5 separate regions of the Homo sapiens genome follow, and all the other regions are linked to region 1. Evidence: fine-mapped expression QTL. A gene starts in region 1. Each other region holds a variant in brackets. All regions are shown on one strand. Distances are between the middles of the regions.

Region 1 (5,134 bases):
ACCATTAGCTTGGCTTTTAAGCATTATATCTCTCTCATGTAGCCCCTCCCTACAAAGCCACAACTTCCTTTGCAAAAGTAATTATGAACATCTTCCTCTTTCACGCATCTCTCTCCACCCTGGCACACACCAAAATACACTAATTGTCTCTGCATAAGGCTACTTGAAAACTTGCCGTATCACCATTTACTACATTTTTCAGGCTATCTACAATTTTTAGTGCAGTGCAGTCTTTCTTATCCATTCTCTTTTTACAAGCAAGTTGCCAACACTTGTCCGGTAACACTAAAGTACACTTAGAATTATGCATTTCTTCAAGGGAAGACAGGTGAGCCATGCTCTGCCAGATTCTTGTCTGCAAAGGATGACCTTGAAAAGTCCTGGAGAAACTGGCCTTTTCATTCCTGCGTGTTCACCTCCACTGTGCCTGCTCACAAAGGAAGCCTTAATGCCACGGACCATTGTACTTTTCAAGCATCATTGCATAGGGAAGAGACACTGCCTTCACTACTGCCATAGCCAATCTTAAATAAGCTAAAGAAATACTAGAAGTTGGGACTGTAAGTGAAATGGCATATTCTAAGGGCAAAAACCAATTTCCATGGAACTGAAATACCTGCCTCGTTTAAGGCAACCATATGACACACGGGTTCACAAGTGCTAAAAGTTCATTTACTCCCTCAGGTAAAACAAAGCTGCAGCTGTAGTTAAGGCTTGAGCTGCAGTTGTTTCCGGAACAAGAAATAGAACCAAGAAAAGATCTGCAAAGAAGCACTTGAAATGGACATTCAGACTCTATAGTTTTTTAAAGCAGTGGCAGCGTTGCTTCTTTCTCCAGCCAGACCCCAGATACCAGTGCCTACCAAAGTGTCCTCTCTCACACACCCTCCTACAGTGTTAGGCTTTGTGGGAAGTTAGAGATCATATTCTCCGGGGGCAAGGACTATCTCCCAAATAGGCAATGTGAAGACATCTTAGCAGGGAATTGAGTCATCTTGGGAGCTAGGAGGAAGATGGGTTACACCTTAACAATGGTCTGCAGCAGGAAGATCCATTAACCATTATGCCTTAGCGCACCCACTCATACTCACTCATATTCCCCCAGGGGTGCTCTGATACGACACTGTCCACGGACTGCACACTCTTCAGGTCTAATTAATGATGCCCACCCTCCCCACCTACTAAACACATTTGCAATTTAAGCATCTCTAGCTCTCCACTACCACCCACCTTTCTCCTCCACTGTCCCTTCTTCTCCATGGAGATAATTAACTAGTTGACTACTTATTAGTCCTTCAGTTGATTAGGATTTCAGGCTCACACTAAGGCCTTATCCTAAAGTCTATAAAGATTTGTGACACCGACAGGGTAAAAATTCGAAACCAGCTAGCAAAACTTTCCTGAAGGATAGAGATACTCAAGATCTAAAAATTATCTGAAGGGTTGGATTCCACACCATGAATCCCCTTTTCCCCCTTCCCCACAGCTCCCTATAGTGAAAGATCCGTAACCTTAGGAATAAATGATAAATCCTGTGACTATTAGGTTTTTCCTGGGAGTTCCTCGGAGACCCGGAGGTAACCGTGTATGTGCGTGCGAGTGTGTCTGTGTGCGTACAAGGTCCGGAGAAGCGAAACGGTCGCAGGTTCCTACAGACCCCGACCCTGTTCCCTTGGCCACCTGGTCCCCGGTAGCTGCATCCCTGGGCGGCGCACGCAGTGAAGCGTCGCGCTCTGGCGCCGGTGCCGCACCGAGGGGTATGACTACGACCCCTTGCGCGTGCCCGCCCCCACCTCCGCACCTCGCGCCAGCCCGCGCAGCGTGACCGGCAGCCGCCGCAGACCCGGCTCGGGGAGGCGCGGAGCGCGGCGCGCTGAACCGGAGAGGCGGGCCGGCTGCTGCCTTGCGTTCGCCACGCTGTCCTCCCTCCTCCGCTCCCTGCGCCCCACCCCTGGCGGCCGCGCTGCCTGGCAGCCCGGGAAGCCGCGGCACAGCTGCTCGGCGCCTGCAGCTCCGGCTCGGGGGCTGGAACCGAAGCGGGGGCGGCGGGAGCGCGGAGACCACAGCCCCCGGGGAGAGGCGGAGGGGGTCCCTGGCCTGGGCGGAGAGGCTGAGCTGAGTGCGCGTGAGAAAGAGGGCTGCACCGCTGCTCGGCGCGGACTCTGCCAGCCCCAGCTTCAGCCCCGGCTCAGGTCGCCGCAGCCCGGGAGCCTCCCCGCTTGCGCCCCAAGGCACGCGCGGCACAGCCATGAACACCAACGATGCCAAGGAGTATCTGGCCCGGAGGGAAATCCCTCAGCTTTTTGAGGTAGGGCTAGAGCTGGCCGACGGGCGGTAGCATCCGGGGACTGCATCTCAGGGGTTCGGGTTGAGGCAGCCGCGCCCCGTCCCACCTTCCCCACACGGGGCATGTAATGAAGGGGCTTGTAGAAGCGCACTCGCCCGCTCCCCCGAGGGTAGTCGCCTTTCCCGCGGGTTGCCAGGGTCCTTGTCAGAAGGCTGGGCTTAGAAGCCTGCATCTCACAGATCAAGTTTCAGTCTTCCAGCAGGGTTCTGAAAGCAGCCTGCTCCCATCGCGCCCCTCGGATGTGGACACCCAGGGTGGGCTGCAGACCGCGGCCGGGCCGCACTCTCTGGGGGCGAGGGCCAGGTCAGGTGGCTGCACTGTCGCCCAGCAGCGAGTAAAGACTCGAAACTGAGGGAGCCAGAGCCCTAGTCACTCTGCTGGTCGAGGGTCGGAACCCCTGGGGGAAAGAGGAAATGTGGACGAAGGCAGCCCTTCCTGGAGACAGCTTGGAAGAGAGGGATGAAGATGCAAAAAGCAAAACCCAACCTATCAAGTGCCACCTCCCCGGTGACAGGCCCCCAGCCTTGCTCTGCGCTTTCGCTGAATGAACTCCTGAGCACGTTTTTCCCGTTGCCTAGGAAGGGTTGGGCCGCAGGTTTCGCCAGTGCTCGACAACCCACCTGGAGATAGCGGGTCGGGGAGGGAGCTGCGAGGGGGGCGGACTCCTGTTGCTCAGTCTTCAGACCGCAGCACAGCATCATCTGCACCGGGACCCGGGAATGGGGGGACACTTGGAGACTGAGAGAGAGGAGGCTCGAGGAATGAACCTTGGTCTGTTCTAAGCCACAACCCCTGTCTCAGGTCGTTTGGCTTCCTTTCCTTCTCTTTGTATTTGAATTTAAAAACATTCCTGAATCTCAAGTGCTTTTGCTTGAAGTAGGGGGGAGGAGGAGAAAAGAATAGAAGCAAGCCAGGCTTCCTAAGCGAGCTCTGAAAGGAGAAATCCATTCACTGCAAACCTCGTTCCCCATTTCTGAAAACGGATAGACTGATATCGTAAACTAAAGGTCATGAGGGTTTTTCCCCCCGGTTTGGGGGATTTGTTCTGTTAAAAGGAATTTTAAAGCACCACTTGAGAAAATAATTTTGCCTCAGTTTCCCTAAACTATCTTTAAAATGGGTTGCCATAATTACAGGTCTTCTTTTCTCTCACCTCTATAAGCCACCGTTTTCAGGTCATCTGAAGTCAAGATTTCCAGGTAAACCACTCACTGAACTCAAGCGTGGTATGTGAAGCCCAAATCTAGCAAATGTGTTACTCCTGCGTGAAAATAATTAGGTGGTGTTGCATAAGGACAGGTCTTGAGAATATGTGGGAATCTTAAGAGTTGTTTTTTTTGTTTGTTTTTATTTTCAAAAAGTAAATATGGAAATTAAGAGGCGAAGGTTTTTCTCACAAAGATTACTACTGAGATATATTTCATTTCTACGCTTCTAAAAGAATCATTAAAAACATCTGTAGGAGGACCACGTGATTGCAAAAATTCCTACATAGTACATCTTTTTTTCTTTGTAAATGTGGGTACTGTTTTTCCTCCTTGGTGGAAGGTAACCACAGAGAAGTTTGATAGTTTATTAAAATCTACACTGTGCATGCAAATAAGTTATGGCAGGCCTTTTTGTTAAGGTTTTATGTTTCTTATTTACTTTTCTGCATATGAATGGGATAAATAATGCACACCCAGAAAAGGAAGTCAACTTGCTTGGGTGAAATACAGTAATGGACTTAGATTCACTTGTGGACAATGAGAAGATGGAAGTAGACTGCTGGTGACCTCAAAGGCTACATCCTTCAGTAAGACGAATCTGTGCTATGCGCAGCTCAAGAGGGAAGGAAAATCTGGCAGTTCTCCATGTGATTAGTGTAGACTGTAAAACTAAAAACTTTAGGTTTTTAAAATGGATTTTGCCCACCACAATATTTTAGGTGTACAAAGTTTAACAATTAGCTGTCTACTAAACACCAAGACATTGGCCCCAGCTGTGGATTTTAGACGCTATTACAGACAAACTGACTGATTATTGTATTGACGTATTGTCAGACAAGTAAATATATCTAACTGACCTTTTCAGATTTTTTCCTAATTTGAGACATCATGTAAGCTAAATGGAATATGGGATATCTCTGGTACGTTCATGTTTGAAATGTGTTTCCAGTTTTAGACTTTTTTAAACCCACTTTCTTATTATTTTGTCATGAGTTCTTAATTCTGGCTAACCTTATGGTGTGTATATTGATCTTGTAGCTTACAGCAGAGATTTGGCAATCAATTTGAATACTGTGGAAAGTCAGATTATTCAAGGTCTCAAAGGGTTCACTCAGAGACTGAGCAATAATATGTGCTGGTTGTCTTCAATCCCTGATAGTGGCTGGCTATTAGAAGAAAAGATTTGAATTATCCGTGAAGGAATGGAGCTCATTGTCCCATTTTAAAATCAATGCCCTTTGGTGAACCAGTATTGTTTAAGGACGCTGGAAATGTATATTTTCAGAAAAGAGTCATTGAGAGTGTTCACCCATTTCAGGCAATAGTAGGGATAAAAAGAGGGCATTTTGCAGAGGGCACAGAGAATCTCATGTTTTCTTTTATCTCATATCACGTTTCTGCAACAGGTACAGAGAAGAACATATGGGTTTTGGAATTGGAAACATTGAATTGAAATCCTGGGCCTAGGAGTTTCTAGTTGAGTAAACTAGAGCCATCACTAATATCTCTGAGCCATGATTTCCTAATCTATAAAATGGGGATAATAAAGTCACACAGGGCTGAGAATGCACTGGGTATG
Region 2 (5,000 bases), 40 kb after region 1:
CTCACCACTTTGGGAGGCTGAGGCAGGTGGGTCACCTGAGGTCAGGAGTTTGGGACCAGCCTGGTCAATATGGTGAAACCCCATCTCTACTAAAAATACAAAAATTAGCCAGGTATGGTGGTGCATGCCTGTAATACCAGCTACTCAGGAAGCTGAGACAGGAGAATTGCTTGAATCCGAGAAGCAGAGATTGCAGTGAGCTGAGATCACGCCATTGCACTCCAGCCTGGGTGTTGACAAGCAAGACTCTGTCTAAAAAAAAGGTATACCATGAAAACACTACACATAAGAAAGCTGGAGTGATGTTACTGACATTAAAGTAGACTTCAGACAGAGTATCACCAGAGACAGAGGAATACTCCATAGTGGTGAATGCATCAATTCATCAGAAAGACATACAATTTATAAATGTGTATATACCTAATAAAAAGTTTCAATATCCATGACTCAAAAATTGATAGAAATAAAGGAAGAAATAGACAAATGCAAACTCATAATTGGAAATGTTAACAATCTTCTCTCAGTATTTAATATTAACAACTAGGCAAAATACCAGTACAGACATAGAAAATCTAAAGAACAATAGACATGTCTAGAACACTGTATCAAACAACTGAATAATGCACAGTGATTTTGAGTGTGTATGGTACATTCACCAAGATAAACCATTTACTAAGCCATTAATACAAGTCTCGGCCGGGCGTGGTGGCTCACTCCTATAATCCCAGCATTTTGGGAGGCTGAGGTGGGCGGATCACCTGAGGTCAGGAGTTTGACAGCAGTCTGGCCAACACGGTGAAACCCCATCTCTACTAAAAATACAAAACAGCCAGGTGCGGTGGTGCCGCCTGTAGTCCCAGCTACTCAGGAAGCTAAGGCAAGAGAATCACTTGAACCCGAGAGGCGTAGGTTGCAGTGAGCTGAGGTCTCGCCACTGCACTGCAGCATGGGCAATAGATAGAGCGAGACTCCGTCTCAAAAAAAAAAAAAGTCTCAGTACATTTTAAAAGCTTGATGTTCTTTTTGATCATAGTAGCAGAAAAAGCATTTGACAACATTGAACATAAGTTCATTAAAAAACCAGCAAATTGGGATTGGAAGGGAATTCTCCTCTAATAGGGAGCATCTACAAAAACCTATATAGCTAACGTCATACTTAATGGTAAAATGTTGAGTGCTGCCCCCTAATATTGGGAATTGTGAGGGTGTCGGCTTTTACCATTTCTATTTAACGTTGTTAAATAGAAGTAGTAAAAATTCTAAATAGTGGTCTGAGAAGTTCTAAATAGTGCTCTGAGACAAGAAAAAGAAACAAAAGGCATAATACAGGAAAGGAAGGACTAATATTGTCTATATTGTTGAAATACATGATTGTTTACAAAGAAAATCCTAAGGAATCTACAAAATGTGTACCAAAACTATTAGTTAAATTTAGCAAGGTCATGGAATACAAGGTCAATTTACTAATCAATTGTATTTCTATATATTAGCAGCAAATTTTTATGTACTATGAAAACAGGGTGAGCCGTGTCTAGCTTATTATTTAACTTTCCATGATGATTATTTCCTAAAATATTGACTGAGAAGAATAATATCTTTATTTTTAAAATAGCATTGTTTGAATACATAGTCATGGGTATTTGTCCAAATACGTGGATGGGATAGAGGGTGATATGCTTGTGTTTGCATCAGAAGAATGAATAGTGACTAATTTACTAATGTGGTGAGTAGCCCTTGATTATAGGATTTAATCTGTTTGTAGTCCTTGGTTCTTTTTTTCTTCTTTTTTTTTCTGTGAGTCATGGCCTAAAGAAATTCTTTCTCTTCATTCTTTAACTAATGGTCTCCATGAGTACATTGATTCATAGAAGAGTAACTCAAGCACAAATTTTACCGGCTACTTTATCTGGCTTCAGGTGACTGGTGGTTCCTCCCTCTGGGGGTTGCT[G/C]AGTCATTGCAGAGGAAAGCAAACCTAGGCAAACAGAAGCATTTTCTCAATCAACTGATGCCAAAAGTACAGCTTTACCATGTGGAGATTCTTGGGATTTTAAAAAAAGCAAAAACAAAGACAAAAAAACTTTAAAAACGGTCTTTGAACTAAAAAAGATTGGTAGCTACTGATCTCATTTTGTAAATGAGAAAATTGAGTCCCAGAGAGATTAAATGACTGGCTGGAATTCACACATCTAGTTAACGTGAGAGCTAAATTACGCACCTTACTGTCTTTTCTCCAGTGCTCTCTCCACCCAACTATACTATCTCCCTAAGCAATAAAAAAGGTCGATCTAGTCTCAAAGGACTGCTGTTTAGATTCAGAAGATCCTGTCTGAAGTTAGATCCCAAAATGCTCTGAGCAGTGGACAACATATTAAAGTGAATTTTTAATTTTCCAAATGCCCTATTTTGTAAGAGAGAATGCATTTAGTTTCACAGAGAATGCATTTAGTTTCACAAGTTCTGCGCTGTTTATTTCAAAATCTTTGTTTTTCTTTTCTTTTTTTTTTTCTTTTGAGACAGAATTTCGCTCTGTCACCCAGGCTGGAGTCCAGTGGCACAATCTCGGCTCATTGCCACCTCCACCTCCCAGGTTCAAGCAGTTCTCCTGCCTCAGCCTCCTCAAGTAGCTGCGACTACAGGCATGCACCACCACGCCCGGCTAATTTTTTTTGTATTTTTAGTAGAGACAGAGTTTCGCCATGTTGGCCGGACTGGTCTCAAATGCCTGACCTCAGGGGATCTGCCTACCTTGGCCTCCCAAAGTGCTGGGATTATAGGTGTGAACCAACGCACCCAGCCTGTTTTTCTTTATAGTCATCTCCTTATAACTGTTTCCCATGCATGTAAAAGAGTTTTTAAATAGCATGTTGTCTGCTTCTTTTCTGCTGAGTAAATAAATTTGCATTTAAGAAAACAATTTTGAATTTATATAGGAGAAACATCTCCTTAAAAGTACCATAAACATTAGAGCAAATTATTAGAGCCAATCATTGATTCTTCTTGTCTGAAAAGTTTTAGGAATTCTTTAATATTATTTTTGTACATATAAACACTCAATATTTACTGAATGAATGATCGAAATGAACGAGCAAATGAATAATTAGAATGAATAATGGTTTAAAATCCCTAGCAGGCCTTTCCATATCTGAACTTCTTTGCTTTCTATTATAATTTAATAATAAGCCTTTTGGAAATTAACTCAAATATATTCCACTTGAACTACCAAATATTCTAATAAATATCATTCTTTAGTCAGTGTGTGTTTATGTATGTGTATGTGTGTGCATACATACACGTGTGTGTAGATAGATATAACACACACACAGAGAAAGAAATAGAGGAGAGAAATATTTGGAAAGGGTTTCCAGTTCAGATTAGTTTCTGTCCAAATCACTCATACATTTCCAAAAATAAGGAAACAATAAAGCACCAAATCAATAATCTAAAAATATCCTGTGAGAATGATTACATTTCAGTGCTCTGGCTCCCTGCTGGAGCAGAAGACCAGGGTGAAAGCAGCTGCTGCTGCTGCTGCAGCCAACAGAGACTCAAAAGTCTGGGTTCAACTCAAGGCACCAGCACAATTTGAAAAGACCCGTTCTTATAATAGCTATTGCCTTGTAGAGCCTTGGCAATCTACCCATTTACTAATGAGAAAGTAGGGTGAAGATTAGCCTGCTGAAAATGCCGAACATTAAGAAATGGCATGAACAATGTTAGGAAATAACTTCTCTGATTTTAATGAAAATGTCTCTTCTGTCCACCACTGCTTTAAAAATTCAATTAATTAAGTGTGGAACATATTAAAAAAAAGTTCACCATTTGCGTGTGTGTGTGTGTGTGTGTGTGTGTGTGTGTGTGTCTTACTCATGGCTATAGAATAAGACTAAAACTAATTTTCGTGTATGCCTATAGAGCCACCTCATTTATGTGTATAAACCAATGGTGGCAAAAAGATTTCATCTTGTGTACCACATTCAAATTGCAACGACTGCCTAACCCAGTATGCTGAGAAGGATTCTGAAGCTGTATCTAAAGTGCAGTGATAATTAGTAATGATGATTCTCTGCTCATCCCAGATATAAACCCACCTGAATGGGGCCACACCCCCCAGGATGTAGACCGCAGAGTTAAACCATTTGAATTCTCATCTCAGATGTTCTAGAAACTCTGAATCTACCAAGACATTTATTAGATCTTTATAGGGAAAAAAAAAAAACCTCTACCCTCCTCCTGGAAGTAGGGTTGTAGTTAAAGGGGCATGAGGCGAGATGGGGAAATTGTTGAACAGAGACTGTTCCTGATTGTCTGAAGGAGACTTGATTTCATGTATTCTGCAGATCGTTTCATTGGGTAGTCTCTCGGCTTAGCTTCCTCTTCTGGATGTGATGGTGGCTACCAGGCCATCAGCCTCTAACTTGAAGCTTGAATTCATCATTCTCTATTACATCAGAGCAATTTAGAGCTGGATGTCAGATTACGAGCTACTTTTTTTTTTGAGACGGAGGCTTGTTCTGTCATCCAGGCTGGAGTGCAGTGGTGCAATCTCGGCTCACTACACTGCAACCTCTGCTTCCTGGGTTCAAGCAATTCTCCTGCCTCAACCTCCTGAGTAGCTGGGATTACAGGCACATGCCACCATGCCTGGCTAATTTTTGTAGGTTTTTTGTTTTTTTTTTTTTTTGTATTTTGTATTTTTTGACGGGGTTTCACCACGTTGGTCAGGCTGGTCTCAAGCTCCTGACCTGGTGATCCGCCCACCTCGGCCTCCCAAAGTGTTGGGATTACAGGCATAAGCCAATGCACCTGACCACCACTTTTTAAATACAAAATGCAACTATTATATTTCTGGTAGTAGTAGAATAAAATCTCACTAATGACTGATAGAAAGGTAATTTGATTATATCATCAGGGTTTCTCACAGACCCATTTTTGCCTGCCAGGACACAACCTTGGATGTAACTCCTTATTTTCTTCCTCTCCCTACACACTTTTACGGGAAA
Region 3 (5,134 bases), 70 kb after region 1:
GCCACCACACTGAAGTAATAGAACAGGCCAGGAAGAATAAAGGGCAGGGAGTGACTTCTTCCTGGAAAGATTAGGGAAGGCTTTCCTGGAAACATTGACCCTTGAGAGGCAGGAAGGAGTTGGAACCCAGAAATAGGAAAGAAGGTCATGATAAGCAGACACGTGTAGAACAGAGTAGTGAGAAGTAGAAACCAGGGGACAGAGGTGCTGTCATCAAACTGAGCAAGGCACTGAAGTGCTAGGCTAAGGAGGAAGGGTTTTTCTGTTGGCAAGGGCCACATTGAAAGGCTTGGAGCATGGGAGTGACACAGCTAGAAATATTAAGCTGGTAGCTGTGTGTGAAACAGTGAATGGAGGAAGCATCTGGAAGAGGCGTGACAAGGGCCTGGACTGGAATAGTGACTGACACAAGGTTTTACTTCTCCATATGGCAGATCGGCAACCATCTGGCACGGATGGCAAACATGGGAGTAATTGGAAAAGTTCTCTAAGGGAAAATAGCACTCAAAAATCACCTGCATCATAGGCGTAACATACATTTTCCCAGTTTAACCATTTTGGTTTACCCTTTGGATAGTGTTCATGGCAAGGCTGAAAGGAAAGGAGATAGGGAAGGAAAGGGAATGTAATCAGGACTCTGACAAGCTAAAGCATTATCAAGTGACATTAAAATCCAAGCAAAGGGAGAGTAGAGTCAGTTGAATCACAAATTTTTCTTTCCACTAATAACTGTTTCAAAATAGTTCATTAAGTAAGTTAATGAATTAATTCAATCGTTATACATGGAACCATTTATTTTCATGGCAGACAGCCCTGCACATCTTGCAGCAGTGAGGACATAATTCCATTAAAGCACTGTGCAATAATTGGTCTTCACCAAAAATAAAAGGTTTGTTTCATTACAATAAAAGAATAACTGGGCCGGGCGCGGTGGCTCATGTCTGTAATCCCAACACTTTGGGAGGCTGAAATGGGTGGATTGCTTGAGGCCAGGAATTGAAGACCAGCCTGGGCAACATGGCGAAACCCCATCTCTACCAAAAATACAAAAAATTAGTTGGGCATGGTGGTGCACACCTGCAGTCCCGGCTACTTGGGAAGCTGAGGTGGGAGGATCACTTGAGCCCAGGAGATGGAGGTTGCAATGAGCCATGATTGCAGCACTGCACTCCAGCCTGGGCAACAGAGCAAGACCCTGTCTCTAAATAAATAAATAAATATATGAATAGCTATGGCTTAAATTAACAGGTTTATTTGATGTGTGTAAAAATATGTTCAGAGATGGACGATCTAGGAGTAGTACAATGACTACATGGTGTCATCAAGGACCCAGGCCCCTTCTGTCTTTCTGTTCCAACATCTTTAATGCTTTCTCATAGTGACAAAATCATCCAGTCTACCTTCCACACAGAAAAAAGGTGAGATAGTAAAGGGCTGGGAAGCCACAGCTATTGCCTTTCTTTAGGAAAGCAAAAGCTTTCCCATAAACCCCCTCTCCCTCCCTCATTGACTGGCACCTGTATCTCATTGGTCAGAAGTGGAGCATGTGTTTCCCCTACCTTCAGGGGAGGCTGCAAAACGGAGTTTTTAGCTTTACAACCTCTGATGTAGAAGAAGACAAAGGAGAAAGGAGCTGGAATAAATGAGTGAGCCAACCTACAATAACCACCAAAAGGTTAAAAATAATCCTTTTTTCTGTTTGAAAAGATACGTAAAATACATCTGCAAGTAATTCTTTTTTTTTTTTTTTTCTTGAGATGGAGTTTCGCTCTTGTTGCCCAGGCTGGAGTGCAGTGGTGCAATCTCGGCTCACTGCAACCTCTGCCTTCCGGTTTCAAGCAATTCTCCTGCCTCAGCCTCCCAAGTAGCTGGCATTACAGGTGCCTGCCACCATGCCCGGCTAATTTTTGTATTTTTAGTAGAGACTGGGTTTCACCATGTTGGCCAGGGTGGTCTCGAACTCCTGACCTTGTGATCCGCCCACCTTGGCCTCCCAAAGTGCTGGAATTAAAGGTGTGAGCCACCATGCCCGGCCCATTTGCAAGTAGTTCTATGAAAAATGGTTAAAATAGAAAATGTGCTTAATAATATTAGCTACTTTTCAGTAAGCACTTTCAATATACCAGACTCCTTATTCATCTTATATCTAATTCTTCCAACAGTGTTTTAAAATTAATGAAAGAAACAGAGGCCCAGAGAAGGTCAGGAACATGCCATAAAGCCTGAAGCCAGTAAACAAGGGAGCTGAGGTTTGAAATAGATTCTATGTTAGAGGATCCCTCAGTTAATGACAGGGAATTCAACCAGAACTTATGTCCAAGTAGAGTTAAACACCCCTCTCAAAACAGCCAGAAAATATATTGATAATGCCTGTTAATGTGAACCTGCAGGTTTTTGCTGTTTGAGAAGCAATGATACCTGTTAAAAGGTGAACTGAGGCACAATAAAATTTGAAAGAGTTTATTTGCACAAACAGCGACTGATAAATTGAACAACTCCAAGCTGGAAGTGGTTCAGGAGATCCAACCAGGGAACACCAGGGGAAGGCTTTTCTAGGGCAAACACAGAAGGAAGTGAAGAAAAGAAAACATTTGATTGGTTACTGTTATACAGTTGCCTTATTTGATCTATCTTGCTGGAAAGTCCTTAGTTAAATAAGTTATTTGGCAGCTTCTGATAGGTTAGTCTTAAGTTTCATTTTTTCTTTAATACAGGCATTTACAAGAAGTAGCACAAGTTTGGTTTATGTTTGCAAATTGAGCAAAGTTAAGGTCACTTATGAGACCTAATTGGCTTTATCTTCTCAGAGATTCTTCAAGTCTGGTCTCCATTTTAATTTACCTTTACATACTTAATTATTTTTTTAAAAAAAATAAGAAATTTGTTTCTAAGAGATGTGAAGAACTAACATACTGTATCCAGTGCAGCGCCAACTGATTTACACATTTTTAACTATTTTAATCACTCACCTCTGTCATGTAGGTATTAAAATTATTTAGTGCCAGCCAGGCATGGTGGCTCAAGCCTGTAATCTCAGCACTTTGGGAGGCCAAGGTGGGCGGATTGCCTGAGGTCAGGAGTTCAAGACCAGCCTAGCCAACATGGTAAAATCCTGTCTCTACTAAAAATACAAAAAT[T/A]AGGCAGGCATGGTGTTCCATGCCTGTAATCCCAGCTACTCAGGAGGCTGAGGCAGGAGAATCGCTTGAACCCAGGAGGCGGATGTTGCAGTGAGCCAAAATCGTGCCACTGTACTCCAGCCAGGGCGGTAGAGCAAGACTCCATCTCAAAAAAAGAAAAAAAATTATTTAGTGCCTTGTGTGTGCCAGGTGTTTCTATTTAGATTATCTCATTTCAGGTAAAGATAGGGACTTGCTACCTTTTCTCAGATAAACTCTAAACTGCGCAGTCTTACTCTTGCCTTACCCACTCTGCGTCTCACTCTGACATTACTCCTTGATCCCAGTCTGCCCTGTTTCACCCTTCAGACTCAACTGCTGTTGTCTTCCTCAATATAATGGGCTTCCCTTGTCTGTGTTTTTGCCTCCCACTCAGCTGGCCTCTGGAGGGCCCTTCCCCAGGCACAACTGCAGGATGCTTCCAGCTAGTTTAACCCAACCTGGCAGGTGGGACACAGGCAGGTACACAGACACGCCACTGCTCTGAGGGAGCCCATAGAGAAAAGGGAGGAAAGGAGATCAGTGAGTGGCCTCATTGCATCTGACCATTGTAATGATAGGAGGAAGGATGTACAAAAGGCTGCAGGAGGGAGTAAATTGCACCTGCCTTTCCATGATAACTCTGGTGGGACTGGATGAACTTGACACTCTGGAACAGAGATTATTCCATGCATTCAAGAAGAAATGAGACATCTGAAATTTCTAAGTGGAGTTACAGCCATTACCAAGTTCAGGATTGGAAATGGGAGTAAGTGGTGGGAAAGACAGAATCAAGAGATAAGCAGCCAGGGAAGGAGTAGGGAATAAAATAAATTTTATCTAAACCATTCTAATTTCTTGTTGCTCTCTCCCTGCTCAACAACCCCACTGAGGAATTTAATTTAGCTTAGTATAAAATAATCTACAAATATATTCATTCATCAATTTCTTTTTAGGCAATTATTCTGAGATTTCTAGCTAATGGGGGGGTACTGAAAGATGTATGAAAATGTTGATTTTTGGCTTTAAGAGCTCCTATATGAAGTAAGAAAGCCAACTCTGAATTTAAAGGGATGTCTGTGGAAGGGAAGCTTGAATGTGTGTAAGTTGTAATGTGATGCAGGCTATTCTTTTCAGTAGTCCACTTAGTAGGGACTGTGCAGCCAGCGCAGTGCCAGACTGTAGTGGGTGCTTTGAATTATTTGTTAACTTAATGCATACATTAATGAATTGTACTACATCCGTTCATCCTAATAAGCTGAGAGTGAACAAGAACCTCTTTAGACTTCATTCACTAGGATTGAATAAACAGCTTTTCAGTAATGCTTCAAATTTGAGCTTTCAAAAATTCATGCTTTCCACTGTGGCCTAGTCTCTAACCATTGCCAATTCACAGGTTATTTGAAGGTGTCAGCAACCATGAGAGATTTCTCAGAAAATACCACAGAGTGTTGCTTCAAAGAATTTCCACAATTGCTGTCAAGTTCAGGATCAAGGAGGAAAAATAGAAGTAATAGATTTTTTTGTAAAGAAAAAATCTTGTATCTTACCTGAAAGTTTAATTTCAAAAGATAAATAGTGCTGTGTATTATAAGATATGATTTTTCCTCTATTCTGAAATTTATGCTTAAAAATCTGAATACAGACATCACGATCACTTGATATATACTTGATAATGTTTATTTTTTCGTTTTTTTACCAAAGCTTTATTTAGAGTTCATATGTTCATGACAAATGAATTCTAGCAGAAGCCCAAAAAGATGATATGGTCTCATACAACTGAATGATTAATGCAGCAGTAATTTCCAACTAAATTCTGTCTGTCTCAGAAGATTTTGTAAAGCCTTAGGTGAAATCCTTTTGGCTCAGTGAGCAGTTGCTGCATGACTGCAGCGTACTTGTGATTGCTGGCTCATTTCATCGGTTCAATCTGAATTCTTAAAACAATGAAATCTGATATTAAAAATATCAAGTAGTGC
Region 4 (5,110 bases), 280 kb after region 1:
ATTTAGCAAGGGTAAATGGCTTTGCCCCTGAAGAGTATCTAGAAGTGCAAATCAACTCTTCTCTAGAACACATTACTGATTTGAATGGCTTGAAATGATATCACTACTTTAAAGTCATAAGATTTTAATACTGGAAAAGACCTTAGAGGTCTCTGTCTAGCGAAAGACCTGTGTGTATGTAGAAGACATCAGAACACAATCTAAACTCCTTTACAATGATGTGTTTTCAAGGCCACATCTGAGCTGGCTTGTGCCCTCTTCGACGCCATCAACTACTACTCTCCTCTTGCTCATTTGGCTTAAGCTACTCTGGCCATCTTAATGTTGCCAGAACAAGCCACGGTCTACTGGCTCAGGGCCCGTGTGCTACTGCTATCCTTCTGCCCCTTCCTACAGATTATTCATGCAGCAAATTCCCTTGCTCTATTCTGGTTTCTATTTGAATTTACCCTGGCCAATAGAGGATTTCTTTGCTTATTCCATCTAAAATGGCAGACTATTCCCCATTCTCCCATTATTATTTTTCTCTGAGCATTACTTATCTTCAAAGCATTTATCCCTGCCTGAATTGAAGTAATAGTTTTTATTTACTTACTTATTGCTGGTCTTCTGCATTAGATTATAACCTCCATAAGGACACGGCTTGGTATCTCCAGTCCCACACACAGTAATTATTATTGAGAGCTAACATATTTAACATACTCTCTGCACCTCCAGTTTTCTCATGTATACAATGGAGAACATAATAGTAATGAACCTCATAGAGGAACTGAGGATTAAACAAAAGTTAGTAAGACACACGAATCATTTACTAGCTCCTAATGTGCAATGAAAGGTAGTTCTTTGTCAACACTTACTGAGTGCTTCACTTCCACAACTGGGACTAAGACCCAGAATTTTCACTCCAGTGTCCTTTCCATTACCTTGCTTTTTTTTTTTTTTTTTTTTGAGACAGCGTTCTCCCCCAGGCTATTATGCCATGGCACCATCTCGGCTTACTGCAGCCTCAACGTCCCAAGTTCAGGTGATTCCCCCAAACTCAGCCTCCCGAGTAGCTGAGACTACAGCCACGTGCCACCATGCCCATTTGTTTGTATTTTAAGTAAAGACAGGGTTTTGCCATGTTGCCCAGGCTGGTCTCAAACTCCTGGGCTCAAGCAATCTACCTGCCTCGGCTTCCCAAAGTGTTGGGATTACAGACGTGAGCCACCATGCCCAGCCCCATTACACTACTCTTAAAAACATGGAAGAGAATCAAGATACACAGCCTATCTAGGGTCCCACAGAGAACCAAAACCACCTCTGCCACCCAGGGTTGAATCACAGCCTTTGGGTAAGATAGAGTCCAATTCCCCTGTCCTCTCACAGAACTGTCAAGATGACCTTCTGATGCAAGGCCTCTAAGGATCTCACAGACACACTCAATCATAGGTGGTGTCTCTCAAGTTCCTGGAGGAAAAAAATGTAAACTCACCAAAATGTTGGTCATACAACCAACACATATTTATTGAGAATCTATTAAATGCCAGGCCCTAGAGATACAGACAGACATGGATCGTCTCTGTTCTCATGGAGCTAAATGTATTATAACTCTGAAAACTCTAGTTAACTAGCTACATTAACTGTAGAAAAAAAAAGTTGTATCTTTTTTCTGGGATCATATAAATAGAAGAACATTTTTCATCAAGAAATAAAAACAGTTTACAGCCTAAACAGAACAATGTCTTCATAAGCTTGTGGAAAACCCTACTGAAATCTGAAGACTTCCAATCCCATCCAGTGCATCTATAGATGAACAACAGGCTTCAAACTTCAATATCCACAATAAGAAATAGTTTTATATAGCACACAACACATATTTATGATTGAAAAAGACATTTCACAAAACAATATTTATCTTTATTACATGTGATGTACCATTTTCTCTATTCCATTTTTTCAAATGTTCATACCTAGTAAATTTTTGTGTTCTGTGAATCAATTTAAACAAAAAGGGGAAGGGGGGAAAACAGACAAGGCATACTATTAGGTTAAGTGAGAAGCACCCAACATGCATAGAAGAAAATCCTACCCAAGGCAGGAAACACAAGCCTTAGTCCCAGCTTTGCCTGAGACTTTGCAAGCCTGGACATATGCTCAGGTTTGTACTCTTAGGAAGCACACCACATCAGGAAAACAGAATGTAAGGCAACATCTGCACACCTCCACTCCTAACACCTAGTGTTGCCTGACACAAGGGGAAATTCCTGCTCAGGAAACAGGATAGTAAGGCAGACGCTGACTCTGAAGTAATCTGCCTAGGTTAAAATCCAAGCATGACCACTTTACTAACTATACGACCTTGGGCAGGTTAATTAACTTCTCTCTGGCGAGATTTCCTCATATGACAACAGGATAATAAATGACCCTGCCTCATAGAGTTGTTAAGAATTAGTTATCATATGCTTGCTTGGCACATAGTAAACACTGTATCAGTGTTTTCTATTATTATGCATCACACAAAAGGAAACCTCCTCTACCTAAATCTTACAACAATGGTTTTAGATATTAAAAGTTTCTTAAGATGTGCAAATAACTTGAGCACAATATATCAGGAAATAGATCTTATCTACTGAATACCACTGAATAAGCAATGCTTTAGCAAGTAGGTCTTTTACAGTCTGTTTTAGCTTACAGTCCAATAATTCTATGTAGGCAGATGGTAGCCTACCGGCAAATGACAGCTCTGCCCATTATTCCTGCAACTCTCAAATTAAAACAATAACAAAACACTACCTACTACTATCTGAACTTCAGGGCCTTTTAAAGCCATGGGGGCT[G/A]TTTCCTTGGAGCTGAAAAATGCAAAACAAACACATCTTCTGCTCAAGCCGAAAAATCTTCTTAACTCAAAAATCTCAAAAAATGTTTGCCCTAGAAAAATGCATTCAAATGGTTTGTCTATTCCATTTATATAACAATTGTATCACTCATATCCCTCTTCCAAAGCATACATCATACTTTATGGAATTTTTGAATGGATCTGAATGGCTTTCCAAAACTAACTGGTATTATTTCTACACAAACATAGAAGTTACCATCAAGCATTACTATCTTGCCTAATTACAAGTTGAAGGCAGATCTTCTGGCATATTCACAAAACATTTAATATAAAAACGCCCAGAATGCTAATGATTCCCCTCTTCACCCACTAATAATTCCAGGGTGAGAAGTTAAGCTCAAGTCCATTTACTTTCCTTCTGTTATGATATATTATATCTATATCATCAGTGATCTTTAATCAATATATTACTTTAAAATTCTCATATTTCTATATTTAAAATTCTATTACTTTTCTCAATTAAAAAAAATTCAGGGTATGATTTTAGTACCCTGCTATGTACTGAAGAGAACTAGTAAATAATGTTCCCTTGATTTAAAATAGGAAAAAACAGGTGATTCTAAAAATTGGGTCAAATATAACAATCAATCTTAGAATATTTATACTATCTTTTCCTATAGTTAATAGTAATTTCCAGGAAACAAGGTGATTTTTCAAAAGCCATCTGTTTAAATACATGGGGGCTTATCTTCATGAGACACAACTAGAAAAAAAATTTTCAACTTTAGTTTTCACACCTGAGCATTAATAATTGCCTTTTTCTTTAACCATGGTCCGTGTTTCCTTTTTGTAAGCTAGTTTAATTTAGTGTTTCAGCACACACTGAGTAAAAATCTTTACCATTTTTTACAGGGTTGCTTAAGATCACCCTCTTTTCCATAATACATTCCTTATTCTTCATAAATGACAGAAAGAAAACTCTTAAATATGTGAAGCAAACCATTTTAAAAAATACCAATTTCTGGTTTTAACACTGGTAAAAAAAAAAATCCAAAATCTAACCAAAAGGAAGTCACAACAAGCATTCTATAATATAAACAGACAGTATCCACATAGTTTATTTCTCACAGTTCTCCTGACAAATGAACATCATTCAAGAACATACTGTATACACAGATAAGAAGAAACATACAAAATGTTTTAAATGATGCACAACAAAATCCAGCAGTATAAAAGAATGCATGTGAACCCTTGCTCACTGTGCAGACTAAATTTAATCACTTGTTTAAATAGTAATAAAAATACAATCTTTTATGGATCTTGTGCAGACTACAAAAGAGGGAAATTATTACCATATATATGATTTTTATATTAGGCAGTTTTCTTTGATGAGTTGTACTGACAACTCCAAATACAGAGGCAGAAGGCTGTGTATTTTAAAGGAATTAATGTTGTGAATTAGAAACTTTACACAGTTACTACCACTGGCACTTTTCACCATAGTTTGTACACATCACATGATCATCTTATATAACATTACATTTAAAAAATATATCTGAGTGACAATTTTATAACATTCACACACCATGAGCTGGTTAAGGAAGCAATGCCACAGTTGCCTCCTGTAGTGCTTCACTGTTGGTAATTAAGGACAATTCATTGTGGTTAAAAGAAATTAGATATCAATATGATTAAGCAGCTCCAATTTACTAAAGGCCATCAATGACCACCACTGGGACAGTGAGTTCTTTTAAAGTGTATATCCTAGAAGCAAACACCATCATTGGTTAAAACTTTGTCTAAAGAAGTCAGTTTCTGTGCTGAAAACTATTTTCACAAAACTGAAGGCTACTAAACTGTTTTAATATAAATACTTTGTCTTCTCATTATCATATTTATGACCAAGTTCTTTGAAACCTTTGGAATTTACTCTCTCTTTAATGTGTGCTCTCGTTCCATCTCACCCATTTAAGATCACCACCTAAAACGCAGTGGTGAAAAATTCACCAGGGAAACCTTTGCTCACCAGGAATGTTCAGCTGCTGAACAGTGATCTAGAGCCACAACGGTGCAGAGCTGTACTTGACGAGAACACTCAGGAAGCTCTCATGCTGTGAGTGTCATTTCTGGGAAAGCAGAGAATCTTTCCAAACTGTGCACATAATTAACAATGATACCATTGCTATGTGTTGAAGAGGACTAGTAAATGATGTTCTCTTCCATGTCATCTGTTTGCTGGAAAGTAGTTTGGGTCAAGGTAATTGTAACTGGTGCCCTGAGACACACAGTAGT
Region 5 (5,120 bases), 150 kb after region 1:
AAAATCTTCATCTTAGGCCAATTACCAAAAGGGGGAAAGAAAGAAAAAGCTTCCTGCAATATAATTGCTTCTTACTGGAAGCCCGTTTAAATAACCTGGAAGTCTAACCTGATGAAAAACTACTTGAATTTAATCAGACACAAGAAGAGTGGGTCCAGTGGTATGAGTTTACATCATATCATAGAAGAAGTAAACAAGAAAACTAGTACCTTGAGCAGAGGAATACATGGCTCTTTAAAAAAGTGAAAACATGAAATTGCCTGGTTAGATGGAACAATTCAAACATATCAAGAAAAACCAAGATTGCAGAATCAAGATATACTGGAGGGGAACATTGCTTTTCTAGGGCTTCAAGACAAACATTTGAGCATCAGGTCATAACAGCAGAGCTTGAAGTAGAGAAAAAAGTTTCAGGAGCTGACGAAAAAGTTGAAGGAGCGAGTTATCAACCTAGCCAAGCAAAAAGATGTATCCTCTCAAGGAGGGACAGGAAGAGCAGAAGGCAGTGTTGTATGACCTCAAATCCTGTGCTGCAAGATACAGCAAAAATTGTACTTCTGAGATATGAATCTGAAAAGCTTCAAGAGGAAAACTTTACCTCAAGAAATGAAATTACCATCCTAAATGAAGAACATAGCACTTTTAATTTGAAACTAGGGAAAGTAAATAGACTGTAAAACAGAGGCTGGGCATGGTGGCTCACGCCTGTAATCCCAGCACTTTGGGAGGCTGAAGCCAGGGGATCACAGGGTGAAGAGACCGAGACCATCGTGGCCTACATGGTGAAACCCCATCTCCATTAAAAATATAAAAATTAGCTTGGCATGGTGGCGTACACCTGCAGTCCCAGCTACTCAGGAGGCTGAGGCAGGAGAATCGTTTGAACCCGGAAGGCAGAAGTTGCAGTGAGCCAAGATGGCGCCAGCACTCCAGCCTGGTGACAGAGCAAGACTCTGTCTCAAAAAAAAAAAAAAAAGAAGCTGCAGTTTAGAAGATGGCTGAAATTTTACAGAATTAAAAATCAAAGACTTTCACAAATTTTACTAAGAGCAGATTAGTACTTCAAGAAAACTCTGTTGTTCTAATATAAGAAACCAAAATCTTAGTTTTATATCTTAGTTGTAAATTAAGTTTTAACTTATAAACTAAGTTATGTATATAATCCTTAATCCTTAGAAAGATATACATAATTCCCTTTTATTTATAGCAAACTTGATTACACACACAAAACTCCTTTTATAAAATTCATCCCTCAAAAACCTTTCACGATCTGCACAGACCTTTGATGGCATGCTTAAGCCGTTAGTTTTGTCCTATACATTCGCTTTTTAAAATAACAAGTCACCTTAGGATAAAAATTTACTTTCCTTGTTCCCTTGTTATTTTGAAAAATTATTCACTTCTAACATTCCATGCCAAAAATACATCTTCACACTTAAAACTTTCTTCACATCTCTGTTTCCTACTTACTGGTTCCTTTCTGTCTTGTTTCTATTTCCTTTCTAAATTCGTATTTTGAAACAATCTTTAAATAACCTCTAAATTAGACAAATTTTTCTTTTTCTCAACAAAGAACATATTTTTATCCCTTTCTTATAACTTCTCCTCCCAAAACACATTTTACATTTATTGGTATGCTTTGTATACAGAATTATATATGTTAATTAAAATTCAAACTCTTAGTAACATTAATTTCTAATGAAAGTGTAGGAAGCAAGAAATTTTGAACTGTTCCATATCAGTATTTTATATATAAGAATGATTTTATAATTTTGGAAACATGTTTCCTCATAATTTTAATGTGTATTAATGAACCCAAATATATTTGTTTTTCTATAAAATTTAAGAAGCCAAGAACAAACTTATATTTGTGTTCAGCAATTTGTTTCAATATTTTATCTTATTTTGAAATGACCCAGATACTTAATGAGTATCTGTTACTTAATTTAACATAACTTTAAAATTTTAAGTTATCAAAAAGATTTTTTGAAACTAAGAAGAATTAATTTATAAATGATTATACCATTTACATTCACCTAATTTGTTTATTTTTAACAATTATAACTATATTACTTATGAAAACTAAGATATTAGACAAGGCTAGTAATTATTTCAGGCTAATTCCTTGTTAGCCGTTTTTACAGGCTGTGACTATTAAGCATTCCTCACCCAACTAAGAACCATAAAGTTAAATACTTCAGTATCTTGCCAATAACTCAGAAAATACAGCTGCTTTCATTAAATCAACAATATTAAATTAGTATTACTTATCAAGGAATTACATAAACAAAGATCGTTCTCTTTTTAGGATGGATTCATAGTTCTATGACATTCATGTCAAACACTGACTCCTTAAAATATATCTAACAAAGATAAATGTAAAACTGCCTGACCAGTAAACTCAGGCACAAATCTTTGCTGACAATTCTTAAGACATTTCTGTTTTTATTTTATCAACAATTTTAAAATCAGTTTACTTATCAAACATTTACCCAAGTCAGGTGAACTTAAAAACTTTGAGGTGGCTATTATGTTTTTGATAACATACTTGATTGAAGTGCTTAATTTTTC[C/T]CTTTAATTAATTAATTAATTAGCTCTTTGATATATTTTGGTAGAAAAATACATACATGCAACATAAAAACATACAGACAACATGAATACATCGAAGCAGATTCTTTAGCTTTCATTTTGAAATGTTAATCATGAGACAGCAAAACATAGTAATTTAAACTTACCAGTTTATAAAAGGACAGTTGAATCCAAATTATATTTCTGACAAAATGGGACCTGTTCACATGGCTAAATTTTATTTGCCCTGATAGGTGATCTTATGAAGGCTGTGGACCAAAGCTTTGGGTAAAGCAGTTTCCACAGCAGTTTGATTTTTAGAAACCTCTTTTTCTCCTTCAAGTTTTAAACTGGTACAGAGGTTAAATATTCAAACATTTTCATTTTAGATAGCACCAACTAAATTGTGTAGAAAAACAAAATACCCCGGTGGCCTTGAATTCCGGCAATAAATTTATCTTTTTATTTGTTTGTCTGATTTACTTGATTAGTCGATGCAGGCAGGAAAGCATTTTAGAAAAAGGTATTTAAAGGGTTTTTTTTTCCCCTCAGCTTTTCCTGGCTCACATACAGCAGACAAAGCAAAATTTTTATGTCAAAGATACCTTCTATTATTCCCCTGAGCTCAAGATTTCGACCTGTTTGATCTGAGAGCCTAACTTTTGTAAACCTTAATCTAGTTCTTTCCTTCTTAGACTATCTAGCTTTTAATTAACTAAAGCAATTGTTAAATCACCCTAAGCAATTGCTAGTCAATCAAAACTAAATTAACATTTCCAAAAGGGATGACTCTTAGGTGTACTGGATAGCTTGTTGGCTGTCATGGAACTACTGTAATTTGAAAGCCCTCTCTTTTTTTGTTATTTTGGCTGAAATGCTCTTTAAAAAACTTGTAAGTAGCTTTGGAAACTAGCAAAATTAGGTTATTTTAATACAAGTGAAAAAGCAGATTCAGAGAAGCAGAGATGGGGAAAAAAAGGAGAAAAAAAGAAGTTGAGAGCCTCTACATACCAGCATTTTGTTTTAACCCTATATTTGGTACAAAAAAAAAAAAAAAAAAAAAAAAAAAAAACAAGCTTGGGGAGTTCAAATAACGCCTAAGATGGCCATTGGTTTAAAAACATGCATGAGGAAAAACCATGTAGCTGGCTGGAGTCCCAGAAAAACTGGCATGCCTTAATGTTTGAGAATCTCGTTTTGTTTCTTATTAATCTCTTGAGAGAAAAGAAATCTATGCATTCTATCAGGGAATGTCAGGAGTTTGGTATTTTAGATAGTGGCTTTTAATTGGCCATCTCACACCTACCACTTTGTATGTTTATTTTTGCTCTGGGAAGATGTTCAAAAGCAAGCAAGAAGAGAAAAAAAGTACAAGATTCAAATTATTTATAGATGTGCATAACCAGACCAAAATGAAACCAAAATTAGAGTGCTCACAAAAATGTTAAGCCAGGCATGCTAATCAACCAAAATATCAAACTAGGCATGCAGACCAAAAGTGAATTCACCAGAAGAGACATGCATCACAAACAAAGTACACGTTCTATAAAAACCAGAGTACTCGAACCAGAAGAACATTGTCCTTAAACCAGAAAGGGCTTGCCAGAAAAGACAAAAGTTTTTATCATTCCAGGGGGAATGCAAGGTCCATTATTAAGGTGGCCTTACAATCAAATCAGATCCCAAATAATGTCCAAAAAACTCACCAAAGGGAGAGAGTCAGAAAATCTGAGAAGAAATTCTCCAGGACCAAAAAGGCGACTCGTAGAAACGAAGAGCACAAAGGGCTCAGGTGATACTGCTCTCCATTTCAGGGGCTGATAATCTATCTAAGGTGAGCTGACTTAGATCTCACTTCTGACACCATTTATATAATCCTAAATAAGAGAGAGAGAGACTCTCTGAAAGAAAATAATATTTATTTGGGAATGTACATTGCCATGGGAATACATTTGCTGTAGTAATCTATGTGCATATTTAGGGAGGCAAAGGAAGCGAACATTTTCTAAAGGAAAAATGAGGAAGATTACATAATTTTTATTGATACATATTGTACATATGGGGAACAGGTGATATTTTGGTGCACGCATACAATGTGTAATGATCAGGTAATTAGGATATCTATCACCTCAAACATTTATCATTTCTTTACATTGGGAACATTACAAATCTAGCCATTTTGAAATACACAATGAATTATTAACTATAGTCACCCTACTTTGCTATCAAAAACTAGAAATTATTCTTTTTATCTAACTGCATTTTTATACCCATTAACCAACCTCTCTTCACCTCCTCTCCCTCATCACTCTTCCTAGCCTCTGGTAACCAACATTTAACTCTCTGCCTCCATGATATTTACTTTTTTAGCCCTTGCATATGAGTCAGAACTGTGATATTTATCTTTTTGTGCCTGGCTTATTTCACTTAACATAATGTCCTCCAGTTCCATCCATATTGCTGCAAATGACAGTATTTATATAAAATTTGGCCATAAAAAAGAATATGTATGTATATACATATATATGTATGTATACATGTATATGTATATA

Which allele goes with the higher level. Positions count from the first base shown, and alleles are read on the strand shown. Sizes are in standard deviations (SD) of each study's normalised expression. Not every link is listed here.
In carriers of allele G in region 4, the expression in cerebral cortex of the gene that starts at base 1,954 in region 1 tends to be higher than with A alone (small effect, 0.26 SD a copy in GTEx).

Evidence for each region. PIP is the estimated chance that this variant, and not a neighbour inherited with it, causes the effect. A credible set is the group of variants that fine-mapping cannot tell apart.
Region 2: its variant is the best candidate, but not a certain one, in a credible set for the expression of AK5 in fibroblasts (GTEx, PIP 0.52).
Region 3: its variant is the best candidate, but not a certain one, in a credible set for the expression of AK5 in fibroblasts (GTEx, PIP 0.67).
Region 4: its variant is the best candidate, but not a certain one, in a credible set for the expression of AK5 in cerebral cortex (GTEx, PIP 0.61).
Region 5: its variant is the best candidate, but not a certain one, in a credible set for the expression of AK5 in whole blood (TOPMed, PIP 0.70).

The regions. Positions count from the first base shown.
Region 1 is chr1:77,280,066-77,285,199 of GRCh38, forward strand. It overlaps AK5 (adenylate kinase 5), which reads left to right and starts at 1,954. Exons shown (of 14, transcript NM_174858.3): 1 at 1,954-2,308. The coding sequence starts at 2,249. RefSeq lists a silencer at 1,814-1,873.
Region 2 is chr1:77,320,496-77,325,495 of GRCh38, forward strand. All of the region lies in intron 5 of AK5 (adenylate kinase 5), which reads left to right. Among named protein-coding and RNA genes, the nearest start is that of AK5, 41 kb to the left of the region's middle. RefSeq lists an enhancer at 1,749-2,043. The variant G/C (reference allele first, on the strand shown) is at 1,949.
Region 3 is chr1:77,350,193-77,355,326 of GRCh38, forward strand. The region is part of intron 6 of AK5 (adenylate kinase 5); the gene reads left to right. Among named protein-coding and RNA genes, the nearest start is that of AK5, 71 kb to the left of the region's middle. The variant T/A (reference allele first, on the strand shown) is at 3,138.
Region 4 is chr1:77,560,598-77,565,707 of GRCh38, forward strand. ZZZ3 (zinc finger ZZ-type containing 3) reads right to left here. Exons shown (of 15, transcript NM_015534.6): 15 at 1,819-5,110. The coding sequence ends at 5,043. Among named protein-coding and RNA genes, the nearest start is that of ZZZ3, 120 kb to the right of the region's middle. The variant G/A (reference allele first, on the strand shown) is at 2,820.
Region 5 is chr1:77,434,685-77,439,804 of GRCh38, forward strand. The region is part of intron 8 of AK5 (adenylate kinase 5); the gene reads left to right. It overlaps LOC124904202 (a long non-coding RNA gene), which reads right to left and starts at 2,920. Exons shown (of 2, transcript XR_007066178.1): 1 at 2,736-2,920. The variant C/T (reference allele first, on the strand shown) is at 2,572.